2 separate regions of the Homo sapiens genome follow, and region 2 is linked to region 1. Evidence: fine-mapped expression QTL. Tissue or cell type: blood mononuclear cells. Region 1 holds a variant in brackets; the other region holds the start of a gene. All regions are shown on one strand. Distances are between the middles of the regions.

Region 1 (8,016 bases):
AAGGCAACTCACAAAAAAAAAAAAAAAAAAAGAAGAAGAAGATTTGAACAAACCCTTCAAAAAAGATGATATATAAATGGCCAGCAAATACATGAAAAATGTTCAACATTATTAGTTATCACGGAATTGTAAAGTAAGGCCACTGTGAGATATCACTTAGAAGAATATTCAGCTTTAGAAAACAGTTTGGCAGTTTATTTATCCCTTACCCTATGACCCAGCAATTCAACTCCTAGGTATTTACTAGCCTGAGAGAAATGAATCACCTAAGCCCTTTATTTAGCTTCTCACAAGTTCACTGATTCACTCTGTGACACTGGCCAGGTTCTTCCCATCTCTGGCCCTGTTTTCCATCTGTGGAAAGCAGATGTATGGGTTGGGCTAGGTCAGGGATGGCAAACGACGTTTGTCTTCAGTACAAACTCCTTATCACTGCCAGGGACTGCCCAGACTACCTCTGTGATGAGAAGGAATGTCTGATAGAAATTGAGAGCTCTGTGACCCACTAACAATGTCTGCTAGAGACATGAGAATGACCCAGAAAGGCCACATACTTCCTATATGCTATATGCCCACAAAAAGATTTGTGCATGAATGTGCATAGCAACTGTATTCATAGCAATCGAAAACTGGCAATAACTCAAATTCCAGATAGATTGTGGTACATCCACACAATAGTTTATTACCCAGTAATATGAAAACTATTAATATATGCAACAACATTGATGATTCCTTTCTTTATATTGAGTGAAGGAAACCAGAAACAACTCTATGAGTCAACGTATGTGAAACTGCCGGAAAAGGCAAAACTAAGCTATACTGACAGGAAGATCTGTGGTTGCCTGGGGCTGGGGTGAGAGAGGGGACTGGCTGGAGGTGGCAGGAGACTTCTGAGGGAATGGAAATGTTCTAAATTTTGATTGGGGCAGGTGCAGACGTTTGTCAACATTCACCAAGTTGTGGCGGGGGGCAGTGGTTCATGCCTGTAATCCCAGCACTTTGGGAGGCTGAGATGGGCAGATCACTTCAGATCAGTAGTTCGAGACCAGCCTGGCCAACATGGCGAGACCCCGTTTCCACTAAAAATACAAAAATTAGCTGGGTCGGTGGTGGGCACTTGTAGTCCCAGCTACTTGGGAGGCTGGGGCAGGAGAATCTCTTGAACCCTAGAGACGGAGGTTGCAGTGAGCCGAGATTGAGCCACTGCACTCCAGCCTGGGTGACCGAGTGAGACTGTCTCAAAAAAAAAAAAAAAAAAATTATCAAGTTGTATGTGCACTTAAAATGGAGATATATTAATATATGTCGATTGTACCTCAAAAAATGATTTTTACAGAAGTAGCTTTGAAACGTAATGAACTGTTCCACAAGCACGTGGCAGGAAGAGGGCCTGCTACCAGGTATGCTGTGGGAGAAACATGGAAGTGAGAAAGGACAGGGCACCTTCAGAAACACATTAGTTTGTAAAATCGCTCTCAGCTTTGCGAAGACCTTTCAGGCGCGCTCGGAGAGGCTGGCCAATTGCTTCTCAGATCCCCTATTAGAAATTTGACCACGGGCCTAACGGGAACAGGGCTGCCACGGAGCATGGAGAGAGGGCCTGGAGCCCAGGACAGATCATTGCTGACTTGGTTCTGAGTTCTCCATAAAAAACCTCATGGCCTTTCTCCTCCTCCAGACTCACGTGCCCCACCTCACTTCCTTAAGAATCTAGGCTCACAGCACGCAGGCAGGCAGCCATCAACCCCGAGCCCCCTTCCCCTTCTCCTTCGGGGAGAAAGCACTAGATGGAATAAGTCCCGTCAGTCCCAGCGTTCAGACATTCTCCTAAGTACTGTTCTTTTAAAAAGCTGGAAAGTTGGGTTAAGGAGTTTGGGGCTATTATTAGTGCCAAACACTATAAAAAGGAAATGCCACTGATAATCTTAGATGGCTGTATTTTCATACGGGGATAATTCAAGCTTCCTTCTTAGAGTTCTCAGTCATAAGAAACCCTTCATTAAAATACTCCCTCGGGCCATAGCCTCAAACCTAGCATTGCTCAAATCCTTTGGGACTATTCAAGTCAGGACTGACCGGGAGAACTCAGCTGGCATTTTTTAGCCCATTTTTATGGCTGCCTCCTTCTGAGTTTCTCGTGTTGTTCTACCAGAGGAAAATAACGAATGATTCAACCTATGCACAAATATTTATTTGCACTGCTTACATGGAGGCGGCATAGCAAAGGGCCTTAGGGGGCAGGCTCTTGTCAGGCTTAGCTGAGCTCTGTCCCTGTGTGGCATCAGGTAAGTTGCTCTTCCTTTCTGAGCTTCCCCTACAAAATGAGCTGTCAACCCTAGGAGCTGATGCCTGGTGCCTACCACTTAGTAAACTCTACACGAATATTAATTTGTTATTACTATCACTGTTATGCATTCAGTTACATCCACCATGGATACAGCAAAAATGCCGTTTCACCCTTGAGAATCCTACATTCCACCTTGCTACACAAAGCATACAGACAGGAGAATAAGAGAACAGCAGAAGTGATGATACCCTACCCCGTGATGAAGAAGCTGCTAAAAGGCATCTCCTTTCATCTTTCATACACTGCAGGTCCTGTGCTTTGAGTGTTATTGAGAAGCAATGTGTCAATATGTGTCAAAAGTCCTTAAAATGTGTTTGCCCTTTGACCCAGATTCCCTCTAGAAATTTTCATAAGAAAACAATTACATTTGTGAGCAGAGATTTCTCCTGGATATTACTGAGAGTAACAAAAATTTGGTAACAGTCTGTCTGAATGACTAACAACGGAAGTTAAATACATATTTAGACATTATGATTGATGAACATTTATGCAAAGCAGGTCACAAAACAATATGTGCAGTGTAGGTCCATTTCGAGGGTATGACCTGAAGTACAATTTTTAAATCGATACATAATAATTGTGCATATTTATGGGGTACATATAATTTGATACAGGCTTATAACGTGTGATGATCAAATCTGGGTAATTGGCATATCCATCACCTCAAACATTTATCATTTCTTTGTGTTGGGAACATTTCAAATTTTCTCTTCTAGCTATTTTGAAATATACAATAAATTATTGTTAACTGTAGTCACTCTACTTTACTATTGAACACTAGAACTTATTCCCTTCTATCTAACTGTATGTTCAGACCCATTAGACAACCTCTGTTCATCCCCCCCTTCCCCACAAATAGTGGTTTGTTTTTTTATTTTGTTCGCCTTCAGAAACACGTTAGTTTTATGAGAAGGAATCTTGCTCTGTCACCCAGGCTGAAGTACAGTGGCGCAATCT[C/T]GGCTCACTGCAACCTCCACATTCTGGATTTAAGAAATTCTCCTGCCTCAGCCTCCTGAGTAGCTGGGATTACAGACATACCATGCCCAGCTAATTTTTGTTTTTTTTTTTTTTTTTTTTTTCAGTAGAGATGGGGTTTCACCATGTTGGCCAGGCTGGTCTCGAACTCCTGACCTCCAGTGATTCCGCCCACCTCAGCCTCCCAAAGTGCTGGGATTACAATCATGAGCCACTGTGCCTGGCCTGAAATCGTGTTTTTGTTAAGGATTTATTGTAACCAGAAATTCTAAGAAGGAAGCTTCAATTATTTCCATATTACAGATAATATCTATATACATATATATATATATAGAAAAGGTATATAGACCTTACTCACCAATGGTTTTATTATGTGTGAGTATTTGAGTGGGTTTTTTTTTTCATTTCATTTATTTGTACTTCTATAGAGTGAGTATTGCTTTTAGATAAGGAAAAAAAACAGAAAATTAGGAAAAGCCAATTCAAATAATCTAGAAAACCGAAAGAGAGAACAAATACAGCACAATAGGCAAAGTAAGCAGTAATATGGTTTTTCCTTGACATTTGTAAGAATTCTAGGCCTTTTATTTAGCTTCCCACAAATTCACTGATTCATTCTGTGGCATTGGCCGGGTTCTTCCCATCTCTGGCCCTGTTTTCTATCTGTGGAAAGCAGATGCATGAGTTGGGCTAGGTCAGGGACGGCAAACGACTTTTATCTTGAGTACGAACCCCTTATCACTGCCCGGGACTGCCCAGACCACCTCTGTGATGAGAAGGAATGTCTGATAGAAGGTGAGAGCTCTGTGACCCACTAACAATGTCTGCTAGAGACATGAGAATGAGGAATGACCTAGAAAGGCTATCCACTTCCTGTATACTCCATAATGTAAAGGGCTCTTACAACTCTATGAATCTGGCACATCTTTAAGCAAAAATATTAATCTGAATTTGGAAAGTCATAGGGGTTGGGGGTACCTAACTACATGTATTCATTTTTGGTTAGGTTGCACTGAATGACTAATTTTCCATCTTACTTCACAGACCCCAAGACATAACTTAGGATTTACTAAAGCAGAAAATGGCCATGGTGGTGGTGTCTCAATTGTATTTGCACCCATTATGTCCAAGCCCAAGGACAAAGAATAGATCTGCAGCTGTTGTTTCAGCCTCTTCAACCTGAAACAATCTGAAAGCCACAGCTGTTGCAGGCATAAACCTGATCCTGGCTTTGTCCTTGGTTTATGTCTCATGTTTTGGGGAACTCCGAAAGCCACTCTACTGGGGTTGATTCAGAGAAGGCCACATTTATTCATTACCCTCCTGGAAAGCAGAAGTGCTAAATGCACATTTGTTAGTGGACTTTCCAGCATGGAGTGGGATCCATTCCTGTCTTGACTCAAGGCCCACAGAGGAGAGATGACATGCCTAAAGTCACGCATGAAGTTCAATCTACACCCAGCTTTGCCTGCAGGCAAGCAAACATGGATTCTTTGGTAAAAATCCACATCAGGTTGTCAGCAGCTTGTTATTTGGAGGAAGGGGCAGTCTGAAGGGCTTGACTGTATCTCAGCTGAACCACACTAATCTACCATAGCTTCCACAGAGAACAGCAGGCTGTTTTCAGGGATCTCAGCAACAGCTGTGCCTTCAAACCAAGACACTTCAGAAAAATGATCCGAAAGTGGGCCGGGTGTTTCAGCAGGATTTGGTGGGACTTTCCTACTCAAATGGCCCTTTGTGTGCTTTTAAAAGACAGGGCATTAACCTCGTGCGTGGCTAAAGCATGATGGATGACTTGGAATTCTCCATTTACATTTGGCTGGTGGCCACAGAGGAACCGTCAAAACGCCTGGGTATCGGATGGACAGTACCTGGCTTGTTCAGACTTGTTTCTGATGGAGTGAGTGGATCCCGAGGCTTTTGCTCTGCCCAGGTTTGATAAACTAAACATGGCCAGGCTGTTAGAAAGCTGACTCCAGGGTTCCTCTCACTGCAGCAAAATTCAGTGTCCTGAATCCATAGCCTCTTTAATCATCTTTGTTTATATTCAGCATCTTTATCTACTTCAGGGTTACTCTGATCTCTGCCCATTTGTTGCAAGATGTGTGTGGTCCTACCCAAGACTTGGGCAGCAGGAGCACAGGGCCTGTGCTCATGTAGCTTCTACCCAGCTCCATGAAATCACCTGCTTGATCCTTTTACCTTCTCAGTAAGATGCTTGGCAAGTGAGAGTGAATCTGGATCCGTCAGTTCTCCGGACAATCTTGTCAGGCCAGAGGGAGTCAGAAGTTGACCTTCTGCACCATGCTGGCACCATTATGTGAGAGTATGCAGCACTCTCAGGCAGGAGCTAGCTAGCGTAAATTATTAGGTTCTTTTCTGGCAGACCTGGGTCCTGCTCTTCCGTTTAAGAGGAGCTGTTTACGTCAATTGCTCCTCACTGGGCCTCAGTTTGTTCACCTTTCACTTGTGTTTTTCATGAAGCTCAAAGGAGAAAGCAAAGTGTTCTGAATGACTTTATACAAACATGAGGAGGTGGTAGTGGCCAGTACCCTCCTAACAATTGTCTCATCACATCTTGAGGAGAGAGAGAAGCTAAACACTAGTGCAAGTGGATACTTAAGTAAGATAAACTTATTTCCCTTCTAATCATTTTTTCAAGCTTGGCCTTGTTCTAGCAGCTTGGAGGATTTCAGCTGGGTGTCCCAGAGACATATAAAATAGAGCAGAGAGGGGAGGCATTGATCTATTGCTAATAACACAAGAGGGAAATACTGGAACATAACTACTGCTAATAATAATGACAAACACATTAGTATTTATTATCACCCAATACTGTGTATAATCATTAACCTTCCACAGCAATCCTGTGAGGTATGTACAATTATTATTCTTATTGTACGGAGAACTGAAGTTTGGAGAGGCGAAGTTACTTACACAGTGTCACACAGCCCTAAAAGTGATGGAGCCAGGAGTCTTTCCTAGATATGCCTGATCCCAAAGCTGATAGGTGAAAAATGTGCAGTATGAAAAGCATTCCCTGGGCTTCAAGATGATGACTGGCTTCTTTTTCTTCTTCTTCTTCTTTTTTTTTTTAATCATTATCAGGCAGCCTCCCAGCCAGAGTAGGCTCAGGGACTTCCTTGACTGGCTTCTTGCGTCACACGAGGGGCCTGTTTATATGTCCCTGAGTTTGTCCAGACTAATTCGCAATAAATAAAAACCCACTACCACCACAACCAAAAACAAAAACAAAAACCTTGAACTAGAGAACTGTTCAAGAACCAGTGAGGATGAGCCCTGCAGGAAATGGAACCAAAGACTCAAACACAGTCGGGCTCTATGTCTTCCTGTCTCTGCTTCTGTGTTGCGATGATTTGCTCCTCCCAAAGATGGGTTTTACCCAAACCCCAGAGAACACGGCCACAAGTAGATCCAGACTCACATTCTTAGAGAATCATTTTCCATGAGGAAAGCAAAATTGCCTGCCCTGGAAAGTCCACTTAGAAAAATCCTTGTGAAGGCTCTGACTGGCCTGCTGGGTAGGACACTGAGCCCTGGGCCAGTCACTGTGACCGGGTGCACTATTGTGATCAGCCGCACCAGAACCGGAGGATCTCTCAAAAGAACAGGCAGGAATGGGGGTGGTTATCACAAGCAGACAGGCAAGGTAGCAGGGATCCACTGTGCTCTGGCAGGTGGCAATGGAATTAGGGATGCCTTGGTGGCCCCTTTAATCTTGCAGCTAGCTACCTTTCATGTTTTCTTCCAATCCTAAGCTAGCTCAGGATCTGGACAGGGCGTTTGTATCTATGGAAGAAAGGACTTAACCTGAGAGTTCTACTTGACGTGGATCTTACCCCAGGATTGTTTGTCAGCAAAGTTAACGTGGTAGAGCAGAAAGAGTGCTGAGTTTGGAGGCAGACAGACTTGAGTTCAGGTCTTAATTCTTCATCACTTGCGGGGTGGTGTTGGATATGTTGTTTCACCTCTGTAAGTCTTCGATTTTTTTATTGGCTAAATAAAGATGATAACACTTATTTACAAGCTTGTTGTAAGGACTAAGTGAGATAATCACATAAACCATCAAATACACTGGCATATACTAGGTGCTTAATAAAGTGTACCTTCTACTAATTAATTCAACAAATATTTACTGAGTGTGCAATACATTGCAGGCACAGTGGTAGGTGTTAGGGATAATGCATCAAGCAAGAGATACAATGTTCCCATTCTTTTGGAGCTTCTAGTAGTGGGGGTTGGTGGGGAAAAGATAAGTGAGGAAATAAGACAATTACAGGTAATAATGAGTGCTTTGAAAAAAATAAAATTCTTTTTTTTTTTTTTTTTGAGACAAGCTCTCACTCTTTTGCCCAGGCTGGAGTGCAGTGGCACAATCTCGGCTCGCTGCAGCCTCTGCCTCCCACGCTCAAGCAGTCCTCCCACCTTAGCCCCCTGAGTAGCTGGGACTACAGGCATGTGCCACCATGCCTGCTAATTTTTGTGTTTTTTGTAGAGATGGGGTTTCACCACATTGCCCAGGCTGGTCTCAAACTCCTGGACTCAAGTGATCCACCTGCCTCAGCCTTCCAAATTACTAGGATTACAGGCATGAGCCAACACTTCTGGCCAGAAAAAATGAAATTATTTTTATGCTTATATGTATTATTAGTGTGAAAACCCTCCTGCAA
Region 2 (7,339 bases), 130 kb after region 1:
AGAGAACTCACATTTTTCTCTTGTCCTGGTTTTATATTTCGGAGGGAAAGGATTATTTGGCCCCATTAAGAATTAAGAGGCTGGGTGCGGTGGCTCACGTCTGTAATCCCAGCACCTTGGGAGGCCCAGGCAGGCAGATCACCTGAGGTCGGGAGTTCGAGACCAGCGTGACCAACGTGGAGAAACCCCCGTCTCTACTAAAAATACAAAAAATTAGCTGGGCATGGTGGTGCATGCCTGTGATTCCAGCTACTTGGGAGGTTGAGGCAGGAGAATCATTTGAACTCAGGAGGCGGAAGTTGCGGTGAGCCAAGATTGTGCCATTGCACTCCAGCCTGGGCAACGAGCGAAACTACATCTCAAAAAAAAAAAAAAAAGACATGGCTGGGCATGGTGGCTCACACCTGTAATCCCAGCACTTTGGGGGGCTGAGGCAGGTAGATCACTTCAGGCCAGGAGTCCAAGACCAGCACGTCCAACATGGCAAAACCCAGTCTGTACTAAAAATAGAAAAATTAGCTGGGCGTGGTGGCGTGTGCCTGCAATACCAGCTACTCAGAAGGCTGAAGCAGGATAATTGCTTGAACCTGGTAGGTGGAGGTTGCAGTGAGCTGAAATCATGCCACTGCACTCCAGCCTGGGTGACAGAGCAAAACTGCCTTAAAAAAAAAAATTAAGAGACAGCCCGTGTCCCAGTCCCTCGTCTTGCACTGCAGAATTTACATCTAAGAAGAAAATGTATTTTTGAAAGGGTGATGGCTGGCCTCATCCCTCACTAATTGACAACCCATCTGTCGATGCCATTTTTTCCCTTCCTGTTCTCACTCCACAGAAAGAGGAGATACGGTTCTTGTTTGGTAATTGCTAAAATCTCTTTGAGGAAAGAAATAAAGATGTCAACTCCTTTGGCCTGCTTTTTCATTTATTTTTCTTAGACAAATAGACTATATGAAATCTAACTTTTGTGTATATCTCTGGGTAGCCTAGGATACACATGCCCTCATCATAGCAGTGGTTCACAAACTTCTGGATGCAAAAAAAAAAATTACTTGGAATGCTTGTTTAAAATGCACATTTTTGGCTCCTCCCAGCCCCCAGAAAGGTTTGAAGCTCAACAATCTTTTTTTTTTTTTTTTTTTTTTTTGAGATGGAGTCTCGCTCTGTCAGCTCACTGCAACCTCTGCCTCTCAGGTTCAAGTGATTCTCCTGCCTTAGCCTCCTGAGTAGCTGGGACTACAGACACGCACCACCATGCCTGGCTTAATTTTTGTATTTTTAGTAGAGACGGGGGTTTTCACTACATTGGCCAGGCTGGTCTCGAACTGCTGACCTCGTGATCCGCCCGCTTCAGCCTCCCAAAGTGCTGGGATTACAGGTGTGAGCCATCACGCCCAGCCAGCAATCTGATTTTTAGCCCCAAAGGCTTCTGATATGTGTGGTTGTCAATATACAGCAGCTTCGGCAGCAAGGCCCTCGGTATACTGTGATAGGCTGGGTGGGAAGGAAGTAAGATAATGTAGCTGTTGATTGGCAATTTTAACTTAATGGTAAGTTGACAGCATTTTATATCAAAATACAAGTAGGCATTAGAGTACAAATTTTCAAGAAAACCACCCAGAGAAACGTGCTTTCTGTGGGTCTTAAATGACACTATAAAGGCTATCACTCAGTTTTGCCATATGATGTGGGGATGAGCGCTCATTTGTTGAATTGCCAGCAATTCTGCAGCTTTGAGTTTTTTATTCAGGCAGGGGGTTTTGAACAAAGTGATAAGCTGGGTTCAAAACCTGTGCCATAAAGAAACCTGTACTGCTACCAATTAGAAGCCACTGTTTGATGGTTTTTGTTTTTTTTTTTTTTTTGAGATGGAGTCTCCCTCTGTCACCCCAGCTGGAGTGCAGTGGCGCGATCTCAGCTCACTGCAACCTCCGCCCCTCCAGGTTTAAGCAATTCTCTGCCTCAGCCTCCAGCGTAGCTGGGATTACAGGCGCGTGCCACCACGCCCGGCTAATTTTTTGTATTTTTAGTAGAGACGGGGTTTCACCATCTTGGCCAGGCTGGTCTTGAACTCCTGACCTCGTGATCCACCCGCCTCGGCCTCCCAAAGTGCTGGGATTACAGGCGTGAGCCACCGCGCCCGGCCTGCTTGATGGTTTTGTCTTCGCTGTAGTATGCATTCATCCCAAGGTATATTTCAGAGTTGTATATTAATTTTCATCTTGCTCTCTAAGGTACTCTCCAGTATTCTCTTGGACTTCCTAAGTCTTAAGGAAACTGAAATGTACACAAAGCAACTAGTACAGAGAATACTAGTTGATGGCAGTTTGAGAATGTGGTGACGGGCAAGTGATGTGTGGCCTGTAGGTGAGTGGAAACATTTTGGCTCTGCTGGATGAGAAGGTTATATCTGGGCCTTCCGCGAAGAGTAGACTGTCATTTTAAAATCAACCAAAAAATATTTTGCCGAACTGAGACTATAAAGTAGCAAGTGGTATGATCAGGTCTTGGGAATTTTCCATAGTTTCCTCCAAGAGCTGGATCTTCGTTTCTTCCAATTGGTTAGCAATGCTTAGAAAGACAGTGATATAATGAATTTTCTTTGATACTAAGCACAAATTTGTTTATGCACAGGGTATAGGAAATGGAGGACAGACACCCAGTATTGGCTGACATGCATCTATTATGAGCTCTGTAGGCAGTATCTCTCCATCCTGAGGTCAGTTCTATAAGGTAGGTGCTATTTATATCATATTTCAGACGAGAAACACGCTAAATACTTTGAGCCCAGATAGGCTATTCTTCCCACCCTATCAGTAGTACTCAGCATGGAAGCAAACTGAGACATTCATTGCCTTCCTCCAGACGCTTCCTGCCAGCTCAAGCTAGGATGCGATCCCGAGCTCATTCCCGGGGAACCCAGAGTATTAACAAACACCCTAAGTGATAATGATACAGACGGGGAAACTGCGCTGGAGCAGGTCAAGCAGCAGTCGACAGCGTTAACCTGTCAGCTATGGGAGGAGGCGGTGCGAGGCGCGGGCTGGTCGGAGCCGCGTACCACGCCCCCCGGCCCGGGTGGAACGAGGACAGGTGCTGCCCTCCCGCGGCCGCTTCGGCGCAGTGCAACCCCGCGCCGCGGCTGCGCAGTGCCGCCCTCTGGCGGCTTCGTTCCTTCTTCCCATCGGCCTCGGCTTGCGGGCCTTTCAAACATGGAGGAGCGGGAGCGGGGGGCGAGGTCGGCTGGCGCCGGGAGCCCCGCGCGCCCGCCCAGCCCGCGGCTGGATGTCAGCTCTGACAGCTTCGACCCGCTGCTGGCCCTGTACGCGCCCCGCCTGCCTCCCATTCCCTACCCCAATGCCCCCTGCTTCAACAACGTGGCGGAGTACGAGAGCTTCCTCAGGACCGGAGTCCGGGGCGGCGGGCGCGGGCGCGGGCGGGCTCGGGGCGCGGCCGCGGGCTCTGGGGTTCCCGCCGCACCCGGGCCCTCGGGCAGGACTCGTCGCCGCCCGGACGCGCCCGCCCCGGACCCCGAGCGCATCCAGCGCCTCCGCCGTCTCATGGTGGCCAAAGAGGAAGGGGACGGGGCCGCAGGAGCGGGCCGGAGGGGTCCGGGTCGGAGCAGGAAGGCGCCACGCAACGTGCTCACGCGAATGCCCTGTGAGTCCGCGGGCCGGGCGGGAAGCGGGGCAGCCGCCGTCCGGAAGCTGGCTGCCGAGGGGGCGTCTGCGGGGCGGCGGTGGCCGGGCGCGGGTCTGCACGTATTGCGGGAGCGCCTTGGTGAAAATTTGCGGGGATCATCAGTGACTATGGGGTGGATCTGCTTGAGTAATGTGGGTAATGAGGGCGTGGGGAGGGTCACCCTGAGTAAGAAAAGGGGCTGTAGGAGCAACAGAGGGAGAGTGGTAAGGCTGTAGTGGTCATAAGAAGCCGTGGGAAAGGTCTTCAGCGGTAATCGGGGCCCATGGAAGGGTCACAGAGGTGATGAGCCTGCCGAGAGGGTCTACAGGATTGATGGAGGACCTGGAGAGGTGGCGGGGCTACAGAGTTTGGGGGACATCATAGGGACGTCTACAGAGGTGATGAGAGGTCTTAGAGACCACAGTGAGAGGTAAGGTGGGGCGGAAAACGGGAGACGTGGGGGAGCGCACAGCCAATATTAGGGGAAGGAGAGTATTTGGTCAGTGGGATTTGAGGATGATCGGATGGAGTGTGGGGAGATTTGTTCAGATAGCACAGGCGCATAATCCCATAACCCCTGTACATTGACAGCTCCTTCTCGAGTGCGATAAGCAGAAGGGCTGCAGAGTCTTGATACACATATGTTCACATTACTAAGTCACAAGTGCTGAAATGCAGCAGGCACAGAATGCCACTAAAACACAGACGCTGTTTTACAGCCACTCTGCCTGGCTGGGTGCAGGACTGTGTCTGTCAGGCTCATATTACCATATGTGCAGGTTATTTTAAGTTCTAAAGGTGTAAATGGCACAAGGGAATTTCTTGGAGCCTCCTCATAGATCCTTAGAGTAAAGCTGTAAACAGCAGAGGCTCTAATGTGTGAGTTAGGTCTTGTATAAATGGAATAAAAACAGCCTAAGGTTATCTCTTTTGTCATCTGGCAAGCAGTTCTGACATCTGCCCTGTGAACACAATGACCTACTTAGCCATTCAAAGCATCTGTATCCTGATAATTAAATTGTTACCTTATTAAGTCACTGTCTTTTGGATGGAGAGGTGTGCCAAGCAAGGGACTGTTTTGCTTCATTCCTAGAAATTTGTTTATTAAGAGAGAACATCCTGAAACGCTCTGTGCTGTTCCGTGTGCCTTCGTTGGATGTCTTACCATGCCACAGCATCCCTGCCCAAGCTAGGATTTACCCCGGCCTGCTTGCCTGGCTGTAACACAAAGACAGTATGCTTGTTCCCAAAATGAGAGCAGTTTGGGGGACCTTAATTTGCCTATGCAATTTGCCACCATTAGGTAGTTGAAATGCACTCCAAGTCTCATTGCAACATTTATTTCTATTTTACCAGTTATTGCTTTGCTACCAAGATTGTCAAGGGAAAGGAATATTCCTGTGTATTGCTATGTGGTGGGTGGTTTTAGCTTTCCCTATAGAGCACTTTACTGTAATGGTATGACAGTGTGTGAAGACCAGCTTTGTCAACTTCTTATGATTAAGTATATATCCCTGGAATCAAGATCTCAGAGAATATGCCCTACATACTGAAAATTTTCACCATGGCACTGCAGACAGTTGAGTGTACATGAGAGAAAGGCATTGACGTCGCACAGAGTTGATGACCTTCAGAAAGCAAGAAAACAACAGAAACATGGGTGAGGATTGGATTCATTCAAGAAAGAGTTCCTACTTGAGGGTGAAGGGTGGGAGGAGGGTGAGAATCACAAAACTACCTATTGGGTACTGTGATCACTACCTGGGTGACAAAATAATTTGTGCACCAAACCCCAGTGACACACGATTTACACCTGCAACAAACCTTTCGTGTACCTCCTGATCCAAAAACAAAAGTTGGAAGGGGGGAAAAAAAAGAACTAGGTATGTTTTATATGTATGCCACAGTTTTAATTTAAAAAAATATATGCCTACTCTAAACTCTGATTGGATACAGTTGCTCAGGAAAATCAAAATATAGATACCAGTAAGATAATACTATTTGTGGACATATACAAATGCTTTCTGGAAAAAAATGCCTATGCATTTGAGAATGCATAATCCTTTGCAAAATATTCACATAAAATGTAAGTTCCATCAGGCTGTAACAGCAAGAAGAAGCTTTGTTAGGTCATATCATCAGTGAAACATAATGAAGAATACATGAGGAGCTACATTTTGTCGCTGACTTTAAAATGATGTATTTCATCAATTCAGATCCAAGTTACCCATCCAAATTCACAGAGAGGACAGTGTGGAATGTTTATGAAAAAACAAGGAGTGCAAAATTAAGTGTAATGGTGTTTTAACTGTAAAATATTTCACTTTGTATCTCTGTCATAGAATCTCTTTGAATTCCCTTGTGGAGCAGTTGTATTCTTTTCCTTGCAGTAATAAAATTTTAAAAGTAGCCAGGCACAGTGGCTCACACCTGTAATCCCAGCACTTTGGGAGGCCGAGGCGGGCAGAACACTTGAGGCCAGGAGTTCAAGACCAGCCTGGCCAACGTGGTGAAACCCTGTCTCTACTAAAAATACAAAAATTAGTTGGGCATGGCAGCATCTGCCTCTAGTTCCAGCTGTTCAGGAGGATGAGGCACGAGAATCGCTTGAACCCTGTAAGTGGAAGCTGCAGTGAGCCGAGATCATAGGGACATCATAGAGACCTCTACAGAGGTGATACGAGGTCTCAAAAAAAAGTAATAATAAAAGTATAGGAGGCTGTTGCAATACTGGGAATACTAAAGAAGAAAAAAAGCATAGGAGGAAAGGTTTTTCGTCATCATTAAGCCTAAGCCATCACTGATACCAACAAAGAACTCACACACAAGCTGTACTTGCAAGTGGAATGCAATTGCTTTTCCTCCTTTTTAATATTGACATGCCTATAGAGATGGTAAGACAAGACTAAAGAGCATTATCCTCTTTTCCACATAATTCTAGTGTCTATATTTCTCCTTAGTATCGCAGCACCATACCTAGCCCACGGTGGTTCTGGTTTATAATTGTGCTTCAAGCAAGCTTTTTCTAGGTATATCTGTCACTGTGAAATGAACTGGTGTGTTCAAGCTCACGTCTTGACATTATAAAGCTGTAAGAAAAAGTGTTATCATTACTTTGTTTTAGCTACAGGTGTGTTGGTGTGCAGCCTGTGCCGGTGTGAACAAGTGTGTGTGGTCAATCCAAAATGCATATGACATGCAGGGTTTGGCTCCTAGACCATTGTCTAGGTGAATGGCTTGTCTCCAGTTCCAAATTCAGTTTTCCTGCAGGGAGCCTACACAGTCCTTTTACTCGCACACATCCTGCTGAGAAGGATTTCAAAACAAACCTGATTTATTGGGCCTCTGACGTGATACCATGATTGAAAATTTGTTTGAGTCCTGTTGTTGTAGTTTACTTTGATTGCTGAAATAATTTCCCACAATATGGTGTCTTGATGTTTTCATTTTAATAAAGTGATATTCTTTGGATAACTTTGACTTCACTTCCTGCAAATAAAGAGCAAGAAAATAGGCAAAATCAAGAACATCTGAGCCCTGTGTACAGCAGTAAAATGAACTCTCAAATTTGAACAGCATCTCTGTTACACAGAGGTTGCCAAAAGGGCATGAGTATGACTTACATAAAACCGAGAACAGCGGTACTTAGGCTTCAGAAAAG

Evidence for each region. PIP is the estimated chance that this variant, and not a neighbour inherited with it, causes the effect.
Region 2: it holds the start of LSM11, and the variant in region 1 is fine-mapped to the expression of LSM11 in blood mononuclear cells (TOPMed, PIP 0.99).

What each region holds. Positions count from the first base shown.
Region 1 is chr5:157,607,161-157,615,176 of GRCh38, forward strand. No RefSeq gene overlaps it. Among named protein-coding and RNA genes, the nearest start is that of ADAM19, 35 kb to the left of the region's middle. RefSeq lists enhancers at 4,457-4,536, 4,717-4,776. The variant C/T (reference allele first, on the strand shown) is at 3,305.
Region 2 is chr5:157,740,542-157,747,880 of GRCh38, forward strand. LSM11 (LSM11, U7 small nuclear RNA associated) reads left to right here and starts at 3,171. Exons shown (of 4, transcript NM_173491.4): 1 at 3,171-3,657. The coding sequence starts at 3,210. THG1L (tRNA-histidine guanylyltransferase 1 like) reads left to right here. Exons shown (of 6, transcript NM_017872.5): 6 at 1-908. RefSeq lists a silencer at 2,955-3,514 and an enhancer at 3,534-4,034.